Regions from separate parts of the Homo sapiens genome. Here region 1 is linked to region 2. The links come from fine-mapping of genetic effects on gene expression. A gene starts in region 2. The other region holds a variant in brackets. All regions are shown on one strand. Distances are between the middles of the regions.

The links. PIP is the estimated chance that this variant, and not a neighbour inherited with it, causes the effect.
Region 1: its variant is the best candidate, but not a certain one, in a credible set for the expression of PSKH1 in monocytes after R848 (Quach 2016, PIP 0.59).

The regions. Positions count from the first base shown.
Region 1 is chr16:67,672,225-67,680,549 of GRCh38, forward strand. It overlaps GFOD2 (Gfo/Idh/MocA-like oxidoreductase domain containing 2), which reads right to left. Exons shown (of 3, transcript NM_030819.4): 3 at 2,312-3,829. The coding sequence ends at 2,931. Among named protein-coding and RNA genes, the nearest start is that of C16orf86, 9.6 kb to the left of the region's middle. RefSeq lists enhancers at 868-927, 4,842-5,798, 5,799-6,754. The variant G/A (reference allele first, on the strand shown) is at 5,046.
Region 2 is chr16:67,889,757-67,898,081 of GRCh38, forward strand. PSKH1 (protein serine kinase H1) reads left to right here and starts at 3,498. Exons shown (of 3, transcript NM_006742.3): 1 at 3,498-3,615. RefSeq lists silencers at 3,235-3,294, 3,625-3,744.

The sequences.
Region 1 (8,325 bases), 220 kb before region 2:
GAGAAAAAAAGGAAAAGAAAGAAAGAAGACAAGAAAAGAAAAAAGAAAAGAAAAGGAGAGGGAGAGAGGGAGGGAGGGAGGGATGGAGGGACATGCAACCTCAGCTCAACTGAGGACCAAGGCTGTGGAACCACAGGTTGGGAGGTGGCTACTTTGCTGAAGTCAGAAGTGGTGACCGGGCAGTCCTCCAGCTGACTCCTGAGAGAGAGAGGTGGTGCCTTCCAGGCAGAGGACATGCCAGGGACAAAGCCCTGCTAGTATGGAAGCTGCCACCTCTGCAGGAGGGCTCTTAGTGTGGCTGGAGAGGAGGGCATGGCCATATGGAAACCAGGTTGGTCAAGTCCGGGGGTGAGGAGGAAGGGTGTGGATAGGGAGGGATCTTGGCGTGACATTCAGGAGAGGCTGCTTGGCCAGCAGGGTGATGGGCAGAACAGGAAAGGAAGTGGCTGCCATCGTCTAGGTGAAAACAGTCCTGGATTTGGCTGGAGGTTGAAGAATAAGCGACAGGTATTTGGGAAGTTCTCTTCTGGTTGCTGTATCTGACGAGCCAAGCTAACTGCATTTTTACTGTCCTGGAAAAACTTTATTTTGACCTGAGGAAGAGCTGGTAACATCCTGAGATTTGGAAACAGGTCCTGGGAGATGCTACTGCCTTCTTCCAGGAGGGGGTGCTGCCGGACAAGTCTAGAACCAGTGTGGGTTCAGTCACCCATGGAGACCAGAACCCTGTGGGCTCCCTTGGCCACAGGCATCTGGGCACATCTGTCTTCCCCATCCCCAGTGTGGGACTGACCAGCTCTGATGCCCAGGATAACTCGATGGTAAAGACGTCTGAGGGAAGGGGCCATGCACCACTCTGGCCGTGAATCTAGGCTCTGGGGATTCCCTCAGAGGAACCGGGGTCCTCATTAAAGCAGCTCTGCATTCAGCCCACTGCAGTACCCTCCCCCCAGCACATTCTGGGAACCCGAGTGCCATTCTGGGTTGGCCACATGGCCCTTTCTTATGTGGGAGCATCTAAGTCAGGCTTGTGCTTTCCTGGTCAATTCCCACATTTCAGAGTGACCTCGACATCCTAGCAACACATGGGAGGACTGAGCTGAGCTAACTGTCCCAGGGACAAGGGGGCAGCCTCCCCTTTAACCTTCGGTGTCCTGCCTGGTGGTGGGTGCTATCTGCATTTCACCTCCTAGTTCAGGCCAGGCCGAGGCTCCTGCCACAGGGAGGGGCAATGCCGGGCCCTCAGGTCTGAAGATTCCCAAATGCTGGGAGGAAGCGTGGTTCAAGGTCAGGCTCTGTGGTTAGATGGTCCTGACCAGGCTCCTGGCTCCATCATGTACAATCTACAGGAGGCAAGTAGCTTTGCCCTCTGTGCCTCCATTTTATGATCTGAATGATGAGAATATTTACCGTCAGAGAGTGGTTTGGAGGTTAAGGGAAATAATAACATACACGTTTGCCCTGAGGGTCAGCATGCAGTAGGCACACTCCAACCCTATCCCTTGTTATTCCCTCTCACAAGGACATCTGAATCCAGGAAATTACAGGAAAACAAGCCTGGTGACGTCTAGAAGCGGTGCCAAGAGGAAGAGGAAGCCCTCCCTGGGCTTTTCTGGCAAGGAGCCCAGGGCAGGGAAGAGGGCGGAAGGTTAGAGAAGGGAACAGAACTTGGTCCAGGCTGAACGATCCTGGCAGGCTGGTCAAACAAGCAAAGGGGAACGCATGTCTTTTCTCAACACCGTGCCCCCCCGCCCCCACCCCCCGCCGCCTCTGGCAGAGCTGGGTAGAAGGCTGGCCCTGTGCAGAGCACAGTCAAGAGCATGGTGGGTGATTGGCCCTCGGGTCCAGCCACAGCTGCTCCATGGGGCACGCCTGGAGCTCTTCCTCCTCCTCCTCACCCTGTGCCACCTCCCTGAAACCACTCCTCCCCGCCACCTCAAGAGCACTCTGGCAGCCAACACCGTGACATTAAGAACAGAACCCCTCCTAACCTCCACCCCAGTGAGGCCCCAAACTCTCCCGCTATCTGCTGAGACGGCAGGCCCAGCAGCAGCCCATTAGGAAGTCCTGAGTCCTGTTCTCTGAGGAAATCTTTTCTTCTGAGGCTCCTGGGATTTGGCTATGAGGGAACAGGCAGGAGACGAGGGCTGGCAGGGGCAGCGGCCCGTGTGGCACAGTTGGCGGTGATGACCCACGCTGGCTCCGAGCTGCTGTGGAGCAATGAGTAGAGAAAAACCCCCTACCAGCCAGAAACAAGCCTTTCAGTATTAAAGAAACCCAACCTACCAAACAAAAACCACATGCCATGTCCTATTTTCTGAATTATTTATTAACATTTCTCAGATGTTCTAAAGCCCTCCCTTGCCTCCTCTCTGCCAAACCAGGGCCCTCTGTCCTACTTCAAAAGCCCAAGAGCTCACTTAATAAAGCAAGCCCCAGTCCCCACCTGGGAAGGGCCTGGTCACATGGGAGGGCAGGTGAGGGTCCCTGAGGGACAGCTTGTTGCCCTCACTGTTCCTGAGATGCCCCAGCCCAAGAACGAAACAAAACTTCTCATCATTTCTCCTCAGGCCTCAGCCGAGCTGGCCCCTCTTGTGCTTTCTCACCCTGTTAGGACTGCGGATCAGGCTGAAGGGCTCCCCAGGGTGAGCCTTTCCTGGTCCGACTCACTGGCATCACCATGAGGAGGCCTGGCGGCAGCTCTGCCCTGTGCACACCGTGGTAACCTGGCAACAGGAACATTTGCCACCCTGCAAGTCTGAGGAGCAGATGAGCCACTGGAGGGGGCGAAGTCCCAGAGCCACCTCTGGCTTCACCCAGACTCATTAAATGAAAGACACTGTCTCTGCTAGGGCCAAGTCCCTGTCATGTCTGGCTCCTGTTCCCCTCCCTGGTCCCTCTGCCCTGTGGCAAGGAGCCCAGGTGCAGGCTCATAGGTTGTTCCGCTGAAGTGCCTCACACAGGTTCTGGTTGGTGTCGGGCTCCTCCGTCAGCACCTCCACAGCCTCCCACTCCCCGGATCGGCTCGACCTCTTGATGGCATCCACCACGCTCTGCATGTACAGCCCATCCTCGAAGGAGGCGGCCATGGAGACAGGGGTGCGGTCCCAGGTGCGGCGGTCGCCCTGCCCCTGGAAGGACTGGCGCAAGGCCTGCACCATGTAGACCATGCCCTTCAGGTACAGCAGCGGGACATCCTGGGGCCCCTGCTCAGGCAGTCCTGCGCCCACTGCCAGCGAGTCCCTCAAGAGCAGCTCCTCTTGCGTGGCAGAGTTCTTCTGCCCATAGAGGTCGGCTCCCCGGGCGACGAGGCGTCCTGCAGAGCCTACCACCATGACTTCATGCACAAAGGCGCCTGGCATGTTGAAGTTGAGTGTCACTGTGCTACACACACCCCCACCCATGAGCATCTGGAAGAAACAGAAGTCATCGCTAGTGACGTGCCGGATGCCACGGATGGCAGCGTTCTGCCTCACGAATGTCTTGAGCAGCCCGTGCACCTTCTCGGCTCTCCGGCCGGTCAGGTGGGTCAGCAGGTCCACAATGTAGGTCCCCATGGTGTGCAAGCCCCCGCCGCCCATGAGCTCATCACAGATCCAGCCATAGCTGGGGCTCAGCAGGCTGCCTGAGTAGATGCGGGCATCACAGATCATCACCGCTCCCACATAGTGTTCCGAAATCAGCTGTTTCATGCGCACGAAGGCAGGCAGGAAGCGCAGCACGTTCCCTACCAGGCTCATGAGCTGCGGGTAGTAGCGCGAGGCTGTCACCATCCGGAAGGCATCCACCGATGTTGCTGCCTTCTCGCAAACCACATTCTTCCCAATACCTAACAACAGGACACAACAGGAAATCTCAAAGTTTCAAGGGGGAATCTCCAGCATGTCCGCCTGCCCTGAGGATTTTGGACTTCTCTGCCTTACAACTGCACGAACTAATTTTTTTTTCTTTTTTGTAGAGGTGGGGTCTTGCTATGCTGCCCAGGCTAGTCTCAATCTCCTGGCCTCAAGCGATCCTCCATCTTGGCCTCCTAAGTGGGACCACAGGTGTGTACCACCACGCCTGGCTAATTTAAAATTTTTTTTTTGTAGAGATGGGGTCCTCCTCTGTTGCCTAGGCAGGGCCCAAGTGATCCTCCTGCCTTGGCCTCCCAAAGTGCTGAGATTACAGGTGTGAGCCACCATGCCTGGCCCCAATTTCTTCAAATAAATCTCTGTCTTAAACACCCTATTGGTTCTGTTTCTCTGGAGAACCCTGAATAACACAGGTGGGCTAGAGAGGTGGGCACACTTCATGGACGTGTCTCTATGTTGTCATGCATTTATTAGGTCATCAGCTTGGGGCAAGGAAATCTAACCTATTTTCTAGGGGATGGACTATTCATAACTTCTACTCTTAGTCATAACTCCAGAGAGGGCCCTAAGATTCCCTGCAGATTGTTCTCTGAAAACACTGGTCCAACAAGTTAGAGTGGCCCAAGGCTAGAACATGTTTGGCTCCGGCAGGAAGGGAAGGAAGTGAGAATACCCTTTTTGCCCTCACACCCATTCTGGGTACGCTGCAGCCAACACGCACCCAGAGGTAAACAAAGCTGGACAAAGCCCTGAGGAGAGTGCTAGAGGATAAGCAGCTGGGAACTGAAGGGATGAATGCTGCTCCATGTTTCAAGATGAAAGCTTGTGAGGATATGAGCAGCCATGAGACACTAACACCTGCAGTGTTCCTGCGAGCTTTGTGTGGTTCAAGTCGAAGGAAATCCTGTGCTAATACTTTAAATAGAAAACTTAGAAAGCCCAAAAAGCAGTATGGACTAGACACATACAGAAGTTTACAAGTCATAGTAAGCCAGAAAGGGTAAAGACACCCTGGCAAAAACCCACGAAAAAGCTCTCCAATGTGCAATAGCTTCTCGGAATAAAAGCCAAAGTCCTTACAAAGGCCCCACCCATAAGGTCTTGATACATGATCTGTGCACTCCTCCAAAATTTTCTTTTTAAAAAAATATTGAGATAGAGTCTCACTCTTGCCCAGGCTGGAGTGCAGTC[G/A]CATGATCTCGGATCACTGCAACTTCCGCCTCCTGGGTTCAAGCGGTTCTCCTGCTACAGCCTCCTGAGTAGCTGGGATTACAGGTGCCCACCACCACGCCCGGCTAACTTTTGTATTTTTAGTGGAGACAGGGTTTCACCATGTTGGCCAGGCTGGTCTCCAACTCCTGACCTCAGGTGATCCACCCGCCTTGGCCTCCCAAAGTGCTGGGATTAAGGCATGAGCTGCCATGCCTGACCACTCCAAAATTATCTTTTTGACTCTTTGCCTCCTGTGGTCTCTCGGTTGCTCATCCTGCTCTAGCCACTGAATGTGAGATGGGGGCTGCTGTGCAGAAGGACTTGGGGATTGGGGAGAGGCAATGATCACGAAATGCTGAAGGACTGAGAAGGCAGGGGTGGGTTAGGAAACGAGACTGAAAGCATTACACAGAGCCTACATGCAATGTGGAAAACTGGATACCAAGTCTTGGGCTGGACTAATTCATGTGCTTACCCTTCTAGTTGAAGCCCATCTGGGCAATGTGTGCACCTGGGCTTCTCCTCCACAGCCATCCAGGCTCCACTCTGGCACTCCACAGGTACTTCCTGGTTGGAGGGGCAGCCTTAGGCCTGGATGCCTGTGACCTGGGGCAACCGGTCACAAGAATGTGCCTTCTCCAGGTATGTGCATCTTCAGTAACCATGGTGCTCATCTTCCCTCAGGCCCCCAAACATTTTCTGAATGTTTTCAGATGAGGTAATGGTTAAGACACAGATTATTTCTGATGGCTCACTGCAGGGTGCAGCTTACCCTGATGGACCAAGATGGATTCTGTTCACACAGGCTCAGGAGGGGCCAGCTTACAGCAGAAACAATAGTAACTACAGACAATAAATCTTGCAACAAAAACTAAGAAAACTTCATAGAGATGGCCAATGTCTTGGCTGGGCATGGTGGCTCACGCCTATAATCCCAGCACTTTGGGAGGCCAAGGTGGGTGGATCACCTGAGGTTGGGAGTTTGAGACCAGCCTAACTAGCAGGAAGAAACCCCGTCTCTACTAAAAATACAAAATTCGCTGGGCGTGGTGGCACATGCCTGTAATCCCAGCTACTCGGGAGGCTGAGGCAGGAAAATCACTTGAACCCGGGAGGTGGAGGTTGCGGTGAGCCAAGATTGCGCCATTGCACGCCAGCTTTGGCGACGAGAGTGAAACTCTGTCTCAAAAAAAAAAAAAAAAAAGAAAAAGAAAAAGAAATGGCCGATGTCCCACATGATGGATGGGCCCCAGGACAACTGACTACCCAGGAAGAGTCAATTACTGGTGCTGGACTCAAGCTTTGGAGCCAGAAATTCCTGTGCTCAAATCTTGGCTCTCTCACTTCACTGCTAGATGATCTGGGAAGTTTCTAAACTTCCCTGGGTTTTTGTTTACTACTATAACTGTAAAGCAGGATTTTACAGTTACAGGGGAAGAAAGGAGGACTAAGGCAACCAAAGCAGTATATGTAAAGTACCTGGCTCAGTACAGCTCTGTCAACAGTACATTTTATTACCATCGCCAAGGGAGGGATTCAGCCAATGTCGTAAATACAGAGAAAAAAAGCCCATTGTGACTTGGATTTTAAGACTTGGCTGGGCGTGGTGGCTCACGCTTATAATCCCAGCACTTTGGGAGGCCAAGGTGGGAGGATCACTTGAGTTCAGGAGTTCAAAATCAGCCTGGGCAACATAGCAAGACCTAGTATTTATTAAAAATAAAAAATAAGCCAGGCGTGGTGGCGTGTACCTGTAGCCCCAGCTACTTGGGAGACTGAGGTAGGACGATCCCTTGAGTCCAGGAGATTGGGGCTGCAGTTTGCTGCGATCAAGCCACTGCGCTCCAGCATGGGTGACAGAATGAGACTTTGTCTCAAATAAATAAATAAATAAAAGACTCACATAGAAACTACATTTTCCAGGTAAATAATTTCTTTTTTTTTTCTTTTTTTTTTTTTGAGACAGAGTTTTGCTCTTGTCGCCCAGGCTGGAGTGCAATGGTACGATCTCAGCTCACTGCAACCTCTGCCTCCTGGGTTCAAGTGACTTTCCTGCCTCAGCCTCCTGAGCTAGCTGGGATTACAGGAGCCTGCCACCATGCCCAGCTAAGTTTTTTGTATTTTTAGTAGAGATGGGGTTTCACTATGTTGGCCAGGCTGGTCTTGAACTCCTGACCTCAGGTGGTCCACCCACTTTGGCCTCCCGAAGTGCTGGGGCGTGAGCCACCGCGTCGGCCCCAGGTAAATAATTTCTATGTTCTGTACTTTGAAAATCTGATTTAGTTTCTTCTTCCTTTTTTTAAGAGACGGGGTCTTGGCCGGGCGCAGTGGCTCAGGCCTGTAATCCCAGCACTTTGGGAGGCCGAGGCGGGTGGATCACGAGGTCAGGGGTTCGAGACCACCCTGACCAACATGATGAAACCCTATCTCTACTAAAAATACAAGAATTAGCTGGGCGGGGTGGCAGGCGCCTGTAATCCCAGCTACTCAGGAGGCTGAGGCAGGAGAATTGCTTGAACCCCGGAGGCGGAGGTTGCAGTGAGCTGAGATAGTGCCATTGCCCTCCAGCCTGGGCGACAGAGCGAGACTTCGTCTCAAAAAAAAAAAAACAACAACAACAACAAAAAAAAACAGGGTCTTGCTTTGTCACTTAGCTGGAGTGCAGTAGCGGGATTCTGGTTCACTGCAGTCTTGGTCTGAGCTCAAACAGAGCCTTCCTCCCAGCTTTCCAAGTAGCAAGGACCATAGATGAGTGACAGCACGCCCAGCTGATTTTTAAACTTTTTGTAAATACAGGGTCTTGCTACATTGCCCAGGCTGGTCTCAAACTCCTGGCCTCAGGTGATCCTCCTGCCTTGGCCTCCCAAAGTGCCAGGATAACAGTCATGAGCCACCATGCCCAACCCATGTTGATTTTATAATGTCTTTTTAGAAAATCTAATTTTCAGGCTGGGTGAGGTGGCTCACAGGTGTGGCAGTGCACAGCTGTAGTCCCAGATACACAAGAGGCTAGGGTGGAAGAATCACTTGAGTCCAGGAGTTAGAGGCTGCGGTGAGCTATGATCAAGCCACTGTACTCCAGCGTGGATGACACAGCAAGACTCTGTCTCAAAAAATAAATAAAATCAAAACGAATACAGAGGAGTTGTTTTATCATACGTACTGTTTATTAGGCCTCTCCGAGAGTCAGGCCCAGCCTGGCCCCCTGGTAGCTCACATACTGACCAAGCCCACAGGAGACAAATTGGTGCCTCTGGTC
Region 2 (8,325 bases):
GGATCACCTGAGGTTGAGAGTTCGAGACCAGCCTGACCGACATGAAGAAACCCTGTCTCTACTAAAAATACAAAATTAGGCCGGGCACAATAGCTCATGCCTGTAATCCCAGCACTTTGGGAGGCTGAGGCAGGAGAATCGCTTGAACCCAGGAGGCGGAGGTTGCGGTGAGCCGAGATCGTGCAGTTGCACTCCAGCCTGGAAAACAAGAGCGAAACTCCGTCTCAAAATACATAAATAAATAAGCAAGTCAGGCATGGTGGTGCATGCCTGTAGACTCAGCTATTTGGGAGGCCGAGGTGTAGCGGGATTTTAAGGAATCAGAGAGACCAGTGGGGTTCAGGAGGATATTTATTAATTATTTAGGTGCATCGGCCCAGTCAGATTAACATCCAAAGGACTGAGCCCTGAACAAAGAGTTAAGTTACCTTTTAAGCATTTTGTGGGGTGGGGGGAGATCTGTGCAGGGGGAAGCATATTACAGAAGCAAGAAACAAAGACAGTTATTAAATTAATTGAGACATGCATTACATCATTTCTTTTTTTTTTTTTTTTTTTTGAGACAGAGTTTCACTCTTGTTGCCCAGGCTGGAGTGCAATGGCGTGATCTCAGCTCACTGCAACCTCTGCCTCCCGGGTCCCGGTTCAAGCAGTTCTCCTGCCTCAGCCTCCTGGGTAGCTGGGATTACAGGCACGCGCCACCACACCCAGCTAATTTTTGTATTTTTAGTACAGACAGGGTTTCACCATGTTGGCCAGGCTGGTCTCGAACTCCTGACCTCGTGATCCGCCCGCCTCGGCCTCCCAAAGTGCTGGGATTACAGGCGTGAGCCACTGTGCCCGGCCGCATTACATCATTTCTTACTTTTCAAGGAGAAGCATGTTTTACGACTTGAGTTTATCTGTCTAGTGACCTTGTAACTGCACAGCTAGTGAAACAGGGTCTTCACAATGCCTGGGAAAGGAGGAGAGATAAGGCTTCCTAGCCACAGAAAAACAGGCAGTTAATTTTTAAAGAACTCCAGCTCTTTCTCTTTCTCAGGGGGAATTGGGTTTTCTTACATACAACTGAGTTTCTACTTACACATTCTTTAATTTCTTTTAATTCCTGTTCCAGAGGCAGGAGGATCCCTTGAGCCTAGGAGTTCGAGGTTACAGTGAGCTTTGATTGCTGCCATGCACTCCAGCCTGGATGACAGAGCAAGACCCTGTCTCTATTAAAAAAATTAAAAAGGCCAGGTGCAGTGGCTCACGCCTGTAATCCCAGGATTTTGGGAGGCTGAGGCCAGTGGATCACCTGAGGTCAGGAATTCAAGACCAACCTGGCCAAAATTTAAAAAATAAAATGAGGCTGATGAGGCAGATGTCTTGCTTAAAGTCAAACAGCTCTGGAAGTGTCAGAGCTGGGATTTGATCCCAGGTATGTTTGGCACCAAAGTCTATACCCTTAATTATTGCACTAGACTTTTGGAAACAATTTTTTAACTTTTTTTTTTTTTTGAGATGGAGTTTTACTCTTCTCGCCCAGGCTGGAGTGCAATGGCGTGATCTCGGCTTACTGCAACCTCTGCCTCCCAGGTTCAAGCAATTCTCCTGCCTCAGCCTCCCAAGTAGCTGGGATTACAGGCGCCTGCCACCACGCCTAGCTAATTTTTGTATTTTTGGTAGCAATGGGGTTTCACCATGTTGGCCAGGCTGGTCTCCAACTCCTGACCTCAGGTGGTCTGCTCACCTGGGCCTCCCAAAGTGCTGGGATTACAGGCGCGTGAGGCACCGCGCTGGGCCACCATTGTTCTTTTTAAATGAAATCTTGTAAGAAACCTTACTACGGCTGGGCATGGTGGCTCACGCCTGTAATCCCAGCACTTTGGGAGGCCGAGGCGGGCGGATCACGAGGTCAGGAGATCGAGACCATCCTGACTAACATGGTGAAACCCCGTCTCTACTAAAAATACAAAAAATTAGCTGGGCACAGTGGTGGGCGCCAATAGTCCCAGCTACTCGGGAGGCTGAGGCAGGAGAATGGCGTGAACCCAGGAGGCGGAGCTTGCAGTGAGCCGAGACTGCGCCACTGCACTCTAGCCTGGGTGACAAAGCGAGACTCTTTCTCAAAAAAAATAAAAATAAAAATAAAAATAAAAATAAAAATAAAAATAAAGAAAATTAACCGGGCATGGTGGCAGGCGCCTGTAATCCCAGCTACTCGGGGAGGCTGAGGCAGGAGAATTGCTTGAACTTGGGAGGCAGAGGTTGCAGTGAGCCGAGATTGTGCCATTGCACTCCAGCCTGACAACAAGAGCGAAACTCCATCTCAGGAAAAAAGAAAAGAAAGAAACCTTACTACATAAAATAGACAACAATTTTTTTTTTTTTTTTGAGACGGAGTCTCACTCCATCGCCAAGGCTGGAGTGCAGTGGTGCAATCTCAGCTCATTGCAACCTCTGTCTCCCAGGTTGTAGCTATTCTCCTGTCTCAGCCTCCCGAGTAGCTGGGACTACAGGAGCCTGCCACCAAGCCTGGCTAATTTTTGTATTTTTAGTAGAGACAGGGTTTCACCTTGTTGGTCAGACTGGTCTCAAACTCCTGACTTCAGGTGATCCACCTGCCTTGGCCTCCCAAAGTGCTGGGATTACAAGTGTGAGCAGTGGCGCCCAGCCGACGACAATGTTTTATTGGTGTTAATTTATTTTTAGGTTTAAAGTATAACATTAGCTTATACAGTCAATCAAAGACAGTTCCATGTGCAAAGTACATACTCAATAAAGATTTGAATACAGAGCTACTGAAATGGGGAAGATGGATGGAGGTTACAATGCACTTACCATCTGCAGCACCTATTTTAACCCCTCCAAGTTGGGTTGACTGTAAAGTGAACCAGTTCTGATCCTATAGAGAAGTCATTGTGAATGGTAACAATTTTTTAAAAATCCGCTTGCTTTTCAGACTCGGCATATAAATTAAATTAACAACAACAAATAACCATGAGTCCAGAAGTTGGCCCAAGATTGACTTCACCTATCTACAAATTAACCCTTTGCATCTCTTCTTTGATGGAGGCCAAATTCAACACATGGAGTGTTGAAATTATTCTAAGTGCAGTTTTAAAAAATAGATTTTGTTAATGAAAATTAAGTCTATCCTTTGCGGAGTTCCAGAGGCACTTCCAGAAACCTCTGTTGGAAAGCATTGTTTACCCAAGCTCGCATTACAGAGTCCCCTTTCCCCCAACCAGAAACTTGAAACTTTCTCCCTATTTCCCGCGATCCTTCCTTTTTCTATCACCGACCCGTCTCGCAGGCAGCGGTCAAGTTACTTTGAGCGACAAATAGACCCACCCCTTCAGGAGAGTGCCCGTCCCCGCCCCGAAGAGGTTGATTGGCAGGCCACGCTCGGAGATCCGCCAGCCGCGTAGCCCAGTTTCGGGAGAGTCCGCCCCCGACCCGCCCCCGACCCGCCCCGTAGGCTTGTTTTGGCGTCAGCTGCGCGCTGTGATGACGCCACGACGCTAACGCCCGAGAATGGCGGCGGCGGCGGCGGCGGCGGCGGCCGCTGCCATTGCCCGGAGATGGCCGGCAGAGCCGCCGAGACGCCGAAGAGCCCGCCGCCCGCGCGAGGTGAGGCGGCCCGGCCCAGGACGACGGCCCGACGGGCGGGAGGGGCAGCCGAACTGTGGTCGTGGTCGCTTTCTGGCGCTCCGGGGCCTGCCCCTGGTCAGCCTGCAGCGTCGGCCCGTGCCCCGTGCGCCAGGGCCTACAGGGTTGGAGAGCAGGCCGGGCGATGGCTGCTCGGGTTCCCGGCGTCCGAGTCTGGACTGGCCTCGGAACGTGCTGTCGTGCTGGATAGCCCGTCTCCAGGCCCGCTTGGGCCTGGTGGACGTGGTCGGTTGCCCTGCCTGCTTGCTGTTCAGCCGCCCCGCGTCCAGAGCGGGTCAGGTTGATCCAACCTGGTTGTCCTTGTCCTTACTGCCTTCTCGCGCCCGGCGCCTACTCCACACCCCTCCTTTGCGTCTGCCAGGGGCCGGCGGGGCAGCTGATCGCTTCCTTGTGCAGGCTGGGAAATAGCAGGTCTGAGTCCAGCTGGGTTGCTTGCTTGGCAAGCTTGTCATTCCTCTACCTGCAAGGGGAAGCCTAGTCCCCCACACTTAGTCCCCCTCCATAAAGCGGCTGAAGTGATAATTCCCACCTGAAAATCTGAGTAAGTCCTTCACTGCCTGAAACTAGTTCCTTAGTGCCTTCAGGACAAAGGCCGCACTTCTTAGCAAGGCATTCAGGGCTCTTCGTAATCTGGTGAAGGTTTAACCAGCCAATCAACACCGGAGCACTTCTGTGCTCCCTTTACGTAGTTTATTGTTGTTAAAACGTGTGGCGCTCCTGTTAGCTCTGGTTTCATACCTTTGTGTTTTAGTATTACTAATTTTGAGACAAGGCCTCTATTGCCCAAGCTGGAGTGCAATGGCTCATTCATAGCTCACTGCAGCCTTGAACTCCTGGACTCAAATGATCCTCCCGCCTCAACCTCCCGAGTAGCTGAGACAAGAGGCACTCCCCTCCACGCCTGGCTAAGTTTAAAATTTTTTGTAGAGCCAGGGAGTCTGGCTTTGTTGCCAGAGCTGGCTTCAAGAGACCCTCCTGCCTAGGCTCCTAACATATTGAGATTATTAATACAAGCGTGAGCCACTGTGCTTGGTCCCCTTGTGCTTTAGATAACGCAGTTTTCTCAGTTTGCTATACACTGCCTTCCACCCCACCGACCACCTACCAGTGTTGGAAACTTACATCTGTCCTATAAAATCCACCTGAGATGTCACTTCCTAGGAAAAAAATCTACCTTGCTTGGCATGTAACCATTAACTCCTCTATATCCATGCTGCTACTATTGAGTACATCCTGTTGTGTCACATGGTGGTCTTCTGTCTGCATATGTCTGGCTCTGTGCCTGGCATAAAATAGGGGCTAGCCTCCAGTAGCATTTGCTGAATGCTGACTTATGAATGGATAGATTCAACTGTATTTTTGAGCACCTATCAGGGCTAGGATCTAAGATGAGCACAGCAAATGCCAGCGTATGTGTGTGGTAGGTAGTACAGCCTCTTAATCCTGGATAGTCCAAAATCTCCTGGGATAATTTTGTGATACAAAATCAAGAGCCTTACTGTCTGAGTTAGTTTTTTTTTTTTTTTTTTTTTGAGACGGAGTTTTGCTCTTTTTGCCCAGGCTGGAGCAATGGCGCGATCTTGGCTCACTGCAACCTCTACCCCCCAGGTTCAAGTGATTCTCCTGCCTCAGCCCCCAGAGTAGCTGGGGTTACAGGCAAGCACCACTATGCCCAGCTAATTTTGTATTTTTAGTAGAGATGGTGTTTCACCGTGTTGGCCAGGCTGGTCTCGAACTCCTGACCTCAGGTGATCCACCTGCCTCGGCCTCCCAAAGTGCTAGGGTTGCAGGCATAAGCCACTATGCCTGGCTGAGATTTTTTTTTTTTTGTTTAAACAGAGACGAGGTCTCGCCATGTTGCCGAGGCTGGTGTCGAACTCCTGGGCTCAAGCAGTCCTCCCACCTTGGCCTCCCGAAGTTTTAGGGTTACAGGCAAGAGCCACCACACCTGACCCACTCTTTGAGATTTTGATGAAGAAGATCTGGGGTAGGAATCTGTATTTTTTTTTTTTTTCTGAGATGGAGTCTTGCTCTGACACCCAGGCTGGAGTGCAGTGGTGCGATCTCGGCTCACTGCAACCTCCGCCTCCCAGGTTCAAGCGATTCTCCTGCCTCAGCCTCCCGAGTAGCTGGGATTACAATCACGCATCACCACGCCCAGCTAATTTTTGTATTCTTAGTAGAGACGGGATTTCATCCTGTTGGCCAGGCTGGTCTTGAACTCTTGACCTCGTGATCCACCCGTCTCAGCCTCCCAAAGTGCTGGGATTACAGGCGTGAGCCACCATGTCTGGCCAGGTATCTGTATTTTGAGAAAACTTCCCAGGTAACTTTACTGTGCTTCCTCATTGAAGATCTTTGTCATTGCCTAAGAAAACTGTTGTCTCCTTTGTCCAGTGAGAAGGCCTTGCCTTGTGGACTCCTGTTGTGGTCTCATGCCTAGAAGCATGGGCTTTGGTGTCAGAAAGACCTGGATTCAGTTTCTGGCTTTTCTGAAATCTTGAGGTTCTCTAAGTCCTAATTTCCTTATTCCAAAATAGGAATCATCGTGCCTACTACATGTGCTTGTAGAGAGGAGTGAGATGGTACATATAAGATCCTTAGCAAAGTTGGCACTCAGTTAATGGAAGCCACTTTTATTACTAATGGCTCCTCTTCCCAGAGTTTCCCTTGTCAAAAGAAGGTCTTGTCTTCTTTTTTCTTTTCTTTTTTTTTTTGAGATGATGTCTCGCTCTGTCGCCAGGCTGGAGTGCAATGGCGTGAGCTCGGCTCACTACAACCTCCGCCTCCCAGGTTCAAGCAATTCTCCTGTCTCAGCCTCCTCAGTAGCTGGGACTACAGATGCCTGCCACCACACCTGGCTAATTTTTGTATTTTTAGTAGAGACGAGGTTTCACCGTATTGCTCAGGCTGGTCTCAAACTCCTGACCTCAGGTGATCCACTCACCTCGGACTCCCAAAGTGCTGGGATTACAAGCATGAGCCACCACAACCGGCTAGAAGGTCTTGTCTTAATAAGCGTGTTTGTTCTTCAGGGTTAGTTGTGTGTAGGAAGCTGCTTTGTATTGTGTGATTTCCTCAAGGTCATTTCTGGTCATCGGGGAAAACTGACAATAGTGTGCTTCTTTTTTTTTTTTTTTTTTTTTTTTGAGACGGAGTTTTGCTCTTGTTGCCCAGGCTGGAGTGCAATGGCTCAATCTTGGCTCACCGCAACCTCTGCCTCCCGGGTTCAAGCGATTCTCCTGCCTCAGCCTCCCGCAATATGGTGCCTCTAAATCAGGGTCGATTCAGTTGGCCATACCCCTAGAAGAGATTTGGAATGCTGATTCACTAGAGGGTGGGTTTGCTGAATAAGCATATTGTCTAGGTCTAATTGTAGTTTTGTGCTTGTTAAGTTGCATAAATGAGCTAGAAAAAGTGCAGCCTTCAGGAAACCTGTTTGCATCTGACACTGAGCTCCAGTTGCACTTCACCTCAGGCATCTGGTTGGCATCTAGAACAGAATGCCCCTACAGAAGTAGGTGCTGGAGTTCTCTATCATAATCACAAGTTCATAGTTAAATGAGTGAGACTTTGGTTTGGCCTTCTGTTTTACTTTGGAAGTGTGAGTGTGTAATATGGGCAACTTAGGTCCTCTTCACAGCTTCTCAGCTGTATGATGTGAATGGGCTATAGGTGTGCCAAAGTATCGACCCTTAAGCTTCAGGATAGCTGAGAACAGCTGTCTCCACTGACTCCCGGGTGTTATACAATAGTATCATTCTATCATTCTCTCTGTGTATCTTGGCATGGGGAAAAATTTTTGAGAAAAAGTACAGCTCTGGAAGAAGGGAAGCAGTTCTGCTTGTTGAGAGCTGGAGAGAGACTTATTTATTTGAACTCCCTTTCCTTCCAGGAATCTTACTCAAGGAGCATTAAGCCGGTTTGTGTTGGCTAGGTCATCACTGAGCTAATTCTTGGTACAGCCCTCTGTTGCCATGGTGTCTGATGTGATGCTAAGGTGGAAACATGTGATGTTTTCATTTGCTGGGAGAAAGTTTTCTTTCCAAGCTGCCAGCCTTGAAATGGCCTCTCAGGGCATCCTAAGAGTCATGTATCAAGGGACTCTTGGTGTGGAGCCATCCAGGCTGTAAGTTCCTTAAGATTAGAGACTATGGCCGCCTTCTTTTTGTTTGTCGCAATCTCTGGCAGAGTTCCTGACCCACAGCAGGAATTCAGTAAATATTTCTGGGTTGAACGTTGGGATTTTGGAAGGAGAACCCCAGGTACATTGCCAGGGTCTGTATTTCTGATGATGGCGAGGTCTCACTCTGTTGCCCAGGCTGGAGTGCAGTGGCATAATCATAGCTCACTGCAACCTTGCCTTCCCGTGCTCAAGTGATTCTCCCACCTCAGCCTCCTGAGTGGCTGGGACTACAGGCACACAGCATCACACCCAGCTAATTTTGTTTTTTTGAGACGGAGTCTTGCTTTGTTGCCCAGGCTGGAGTGTAGTGGCGCCATCTTGGCTCATTGCAAGCTCTGCCTTCCGGGTTCATGCCATTCTCCTGCCTCAGCCTCCCGAGTAGCTGGGACTACAGGTGCACGCTACCACGCCCGGCTAATTTTTTTTGTATTTTTTAGTAGAGACGGGGTTTCACTGTGTTGGCCAGGCTGGTCTTGAACTCTTGA